Linked DNA regions of Homo sapiens: region 1 is linked to region 2. The links come from fine-mapping of genetic effects on gene expression. Tissue or cell type: whole blood. Region 2 holds a variant in brackets; the other region holds the start of a gene. All regions are shown on one strand. Distances are between the middles of the regions.

Evidence for each region. PIP is the estimated chance that this variant, and not a neighbour inherited with it, causes the effect.
Region 1: it holds the start of NT5C, and the variant in region 2 is fine-mapped to the expression of NT5C in whole blood (INTERVAL, PIP above 0.99).

Annotation. Positions count from the first base shown.
Region 1 is chr17:75,130,263-75,132,880 of GRCh38, forward strand. It overlaps NT5C (5', 3'-nucleotidase, cytosolic), which reads right to left and starts at 1,480. Exons shown (of 5, transcript NM_014595.3): 1 at 1,272-1,480; 2 at 919-1,019; 3 at 783-843; 4 at 491-605; 5 at 1-380. The coding sequence starts at 1,445. The coding sequence ends at 226. It overlaps ARMC7 (armadillo repeat containing 7), which reads left to right. Exons shown (of 3, transcript NM_024585.4): 3 at 1-10. RefSeq lists an enhancer at 373-462 and silencers at 499-703, 1,073-1,642.
Region 2 is chr17:75,104,003-75,106,730 of GRCh38, forward strand. It overlaps SLC16A5 (solute carrier family 16 member 5), which reads left to right. Exons shown (of 7, transcript NM_004695.4): 6 at 1-178; 7 at 1,878-2,160. The coding sequence ends at 2,031. Among named protein-coding and RNA genes, the nearest start is that of ARMC7, 4.6 kb to the right of the region's middle. RefSeq lists enhancers at 687-1,187, 1,188-1,688. The variant G/A (reference allele first, on the strand shown) is at 1,520.

The DNA.
Region 1 (2,618 bases), 26 kb after region 2:
GGTTTTCCCACTGTATTTCCATGCCAGCCAGGGTCCAGGGACAGCCTCTCGGGAGGTACCGGGTGGCTGGGCCTGGGGCCCGGTAGCACAGCGCTTAACGGTATCTGCCTGCTCCACTCCACGGGGCCAGAGGCACCAGCACGATGCCGCCCCGACTCGGCTCTGCGGTGGCCCCTGTGGGCCTGCCCTTCCTTTAGCTCCAGCTGCTGCCCGCGGCATCCCCGCTCATTCCCGCTGCGCAGCTCCGCGCTTGCTATCTAAGATCTCCCTCCAGTTGTCACTCCAGGAGAGCAGCCGTCTCCTTGTCGGGGGCAGGACCAGGTGCCGATTGTGGCAGCAGGTGAACAAGATGTGCTCCCAGCTTGGGGTCTCCTCCTGGCCTAGGACAGTGAAAGACAGCGCGCTGCCATCTGTCATGGGTATTATTACTCCCTCTCCCTAATCCGGGCAGGCCAGAGGCCTGGAGGCTGCCAAGGATAACGGGTCCAACCTCGAACTGTGTCCTTGTCATCAATGAGCAGGTCCCCCAAGACCACCGTCTTGTCCCTTGTCAGGATAATTCGTTCTACGAACTGGGGCCCCAGGTGCTGCTCCACCCAGCGGTACTGTGTAGAAAACACAGTCTGTGAGTAGGGCCTGATGGAAGCCGGAATTCAGGGATAGGGACTTGGCTCTAAGCCCTTGAGAGCCCCCCACCCCCACCTTCTGGGTTTCTGGTGGTTTCTTTTTAAAATCAGGATTTAGGCAGCTCCACGTGCGGAGTAGGGGCGGGGCAGCCACACCTTCTCACCCACACAGTGGTGGTACTTCAGCAGGGGGCTGGTGCAGATGAAGACCTGCGTGCTGCGGAGAAGGACGCGGTTACCGCCGGGAGCCAGGAGCCCGCCCAGGACTCCGCCCGCCCCCCTCTCTCCTTACTCCGGTAGGTCGTTCATCTCCCGCACAGCGTCCAAGGCTCCCGGGATGGGCTCCAGGTCCAGGAAAAAGCCCGGGGCTTCGTACACACTGGCCACTTTATCCTGAAAGACAAGAGTTCTGGGTCCCGGCTTCCCGTTCCCGCGAGGACCCGCAGGGAGGCTCCTGGGGGCTCCGGGCCCGAGCTCAGAGGGGCGGAGGGGGCGTCGGTCAGGGGCACGCGCCCAAAGGCTCCTCCCCAGGGTGCGCTGCCCGCGGGTTCCAGGGTGAGAGCTCTGCGCCCTTCACAGAGAAGGGGGAGACCCCCGGAACGGAGCGAGCGGGCCCTGCCCGGGTGGGGACCCTGCGCCCCCTACCGCCAGGTCGGGCCGCAGGGCGCGGTACTGCTCGCGGGCCAGGAAGCCGCGGCGTTGCTCCAGCGGCACGTGCGGCTCCTCAGGGAAGCGGCGGCGGAAGCCCCGCAGGAGGCCGGCCTCGAAGTCGGCCAGGACGCCGTCCATGTCCACCAGCACGCGCACGCTCCGCGCCATCGCCGCCGGGCCGGAGCTGCGAGCTCTCGGGGTCTGGGGGGCGCGGGCTCGGCCGGAAGCGGAGGGAGCGCTGCTTCCGGAGTCCGCCGGGCTGATTTGCATAGAGTGTCCGGGCCGCCCCGCCCAGGTCGTAAACCAGTGCCGACGGCCCTGCGGTTGCGCGAGGCCATCCTAGGGTTCGGGTGCAGGGACGGCTTTGGGGGGCACTTTTCTGACCCTGCGCTTCTTCGGGACCCAGCCTTTGTCCCCATCAGCCGCCTCCCACTTTACGGCAGACGTACCCCCGTTCACCCCACGTTACTAGTAGGGGACCGACCTTCCGGGGGCCCAACAAAGGGATGCTCTGAAATACTGGGAAGCATCTAACGAGGAGTCAAGGGTCCTAAACCCGTGGGGCTAGCTCCACATTTTTTTTCTTTTTTTCTTTTTTTTTTTTTTTATTTTGAGACGGAGTCTGGCTCTGTCGCCCAGGCTGCGGCGCAGTGGCGGCGCGATCTCGGCTCACTGCAGCCTCCGCTTCCCGGGTTCAACCGATTCTCTTGCTTCAGCCTCCCGAGTAGCTGGGATTACAGGCACCCGCCACCACGCCTGGCTAATTTTTGTAGTTTTAGTAGAGACGGGGTTTCGCCATGTTGGTCAGGCTGGTTTCAAACTCCTGACCTCAAGTGATCTGCCTGCCTTGGCCTCCCAAAGTGTTGGGATTATAGGCTTGAGCCACCGCACCTGGCCAAAGTCTTATTACCGCAGTACCGTGGTCTCAGTGGATTGCTTTCGTCTGTGCAGTGGAGCAGGAACAATCCCTCGAGGACTACAAAGTGAAATGAATCTGTTAACTGGTTTGTGTAAGTCTAGCTCGTTAAGAGACTAATTCACACTAGAGTTGGCTTGAAACATGGGAGCTTCAAGTGTGGTTTCCCCCGGAAAGATGATTTTGATCAAGCACAGGTAATCAGGACTGTCCTCAGGACTTTATGTGGAACTGACATCGCTTACCTACTCCCGTCTAGAAAATGCTGAACAGGGCCAGGTGCGGTGGCTCACGCCTATAATCCCAGCACTTTGGGAGGCCGTGGCGGGCGGATCATCTGAGGTCGGGAGTTCAAGACCAGCCTGACCAACATGGAGAAATCCTGTCGCTACTAAAAATACAAAATTAGCGTGGTGGCACATGCT
Region 2 (2,728 bases):
ATGTTTTCTACATGTCCAGCTTCTTCCTCATCTCAGCTGCCCTCTTCATGGGTGGCAGCTTCTACGCCCTGCAGAAGAAGGAGCAAGGCAAGCAGGCTGTCGCGGCGGATGCCCTGGAGCGGGATCTTTTCTTGGAAGCCAAAGACGGTCCTGGGAAGCAACGGTCCCCTGAGATCATGTATGTAACCAGCGTCTAAGACCCAGGGTTCATCTGTGTGACCAGTGTCTGAGTCCTGGGATCACTGAGTGAACACTGTCTCAGCCCAGCCCAGGAGGGGGACCTCTAGCTCCTTCACCAGGGGCTTGGGTGAAGAGTAGCCCAGGAAGCCCGGGCTGTCCAGGCTCTGCAAGCTGGGACTCTGCCAGGAGCTGGGACTTTGGAGGCTGGCCTCTGAAGATGCCCTGAGAAACTCTTTTTTTTTTTTTTTTTTTTTGAGGCGGAGTTTCACTCTTGTTGCCCAGGCTGGAGTGCAGTGGCACCATCTCGGCTCACTGCAACCTCTGCCTCCCAAGTTCAAGGGATTCTCCTGCCTCTGCCCCCCAAGTTCAAGCGATTCTCCTGCCTCTGCCCCCCAAGTAGCTGAGATTACAGGCATGCGCCACCACTCCCGGCTAATTTTGTCTTTTAGTAGAGATGGGGTTTCTCTATGTTGGTCAGGCTGGTCTCCAACTTCCGACCTCAGGTGATCTGCCCACCTCAGCCTCCCAAAGTGCTGGGATTACAGGCGTGAGCCACCGTGCCCAGCCAGAGGAACCCTTTTCTAACAACTAGCGGAATCCAGGAGCAGGCCCTCCGGACTTTTTTCCTTGGGTACCAGGGTACTCGGGGCCCAGGAACCTGGGTCTGAGCCCTGCTCAGGTTTGTCCCAGCCGGCTCAGCGCAGCTGGCTGTGTGTTGCTGCTCCTACAGCTCAATGCACTGGACCTTCTCGTCCAGCCTGGATGCCTCTATCATTTCTCTTTGTCTTTCTCTGGCCTCCATACCGTTCTGAAGAGCTCACCTTCCTCTAGGTTCCTCCTGCCCTGCTCTTCCCAAGTGACCCAGCCCTCACCTGTAGGGCAGCCAAGGCTGGTGGTGCAGCTGCCCCCAGTGAAGGTCATTGGGCCTCGCACTGGGCAGTGCAGAGGTCCAGGCTGAGGAGTTGAGTGGCGCGCCCATCCTGGCGCCTGTGCAGAGAACGGGAGGGGGGCCCCTGGCTTGGATCCTAGAATCGGTGAAGTCTGAGGGCCCCCCTGCAGTCTCAGCAGGACCTGCTCTATCAAGGGGCTTCCTCCTTCCTTTCCCCACCCTGTCTCCTTGGCGGGGAGGATTAGTGCCAGGTGGGGGAAGCCAGACATTTGACTGACGGGAGAGGAAGGCTTGCCAGGCAGCCCGAAGACTGTTGTGAAAATGGGGCTGCTTTTGCAAGGGAAGCTCTTTTACTCCCCATTCCTGTCCTCCAGAGGCCCCCCTTTTCCCTGCCGTGTTATTGGTGTCAACCCTGGGGTAAGTGGCTGGCTGGACTCACCCCTGCTCCCC[G/A]TACACCTGTGCCTGTGACTGGCGGTCCAAGCTCCCCACACACACATCTTGCTGGTGCCTTTCCCTGAAGTCACCACCCAGGGGCTGGCTGTCATCAGCCCATTCTTGTCCCAGCAGGGTACCGAGGGAATGATAAAACAGAATGTGTTTGAATTACACACAAAAATGTTCCCTGCAGCAGGTCATAAACTCTGTGAACTAATGAAGCTGACAAACAGAGCTGGAGTACGTTTCCCCTCACCCTTCCTTTCCTCCTAGCTCAGCAAGGGGTGCTCAGGTTCAGGATGTTGTTTGTTGATTCAGGCTCAACCAGGCTCCGCAAGAAAACCTTATCAGGAGATTTTATTTTCATGAACAGGTGCCAGTCTTCCCGCCAGCCACGTCCAGCTGGCGTCAATAAGCATCTTTGGGGATGTCCTGCCTCCTCCAGGACCAGCCATGAGTGGCTCTTATGGCCAAAGGCGGTACTGCAGGCCAAGCAAACGGCTCTGGGCTGGAATAGCCCTACCTGAGTGCCCTGTTTGACTCCGCCACTATCTGCCATGTGAGTTGGGCAAATTGTTGACCACCTCTGAGCCTTGAAAAAGTAGGAGGTTACTTTGTTAGAGCAAAATAATAAAATTTAATTTTAAAAAAGAAAACGTAGGAGGTTGGTTTGGATGAGCTAGTCTCTTCCGGTTGAAAAGTCTGACTCGGTGAGCATCCTGACGACTCCATTTCCTTCTGGCTCCCCACCCAGTCTTACACTTGGCTGCCATCAATACCACATGCTCTGAAGGGAGAGTGCTTGCATGGACTTTGCCAAATCCTGTCTGCTCCATCTCAGTTGAATGGAAAAGGAGGGAGGTGGGGCTGGTAGATAGGTGCTTTTGGTGCTAGTATCCACCAGGTTTTGTGTGCATCCCGTAATGAGCCCACTTCCTGAAAACATTTAAAGAAAAAAGATATCAGCTGGAGATGGCAGTGCGCACATGTAATCCCAGCTACTCGGGAGGTTGAGGTGGGAGGATCACTCAAACCTGGGAGTTTGAGGCCAGCCTGGGCAACACAGCAAGACCCTGTCTTTTTTTTAAAAAAAAAAAAAAAAAAAAGGCTGGGTGTGGTGGCTCACGCCTGTAATCCCAGCACTTTGAGAGGCCAAGATGGGTGGGTCACTAGAGGTCAGGAGTTCAAGACCAGCCTGGCCAACATGGCAAAACCCCAGCTCTA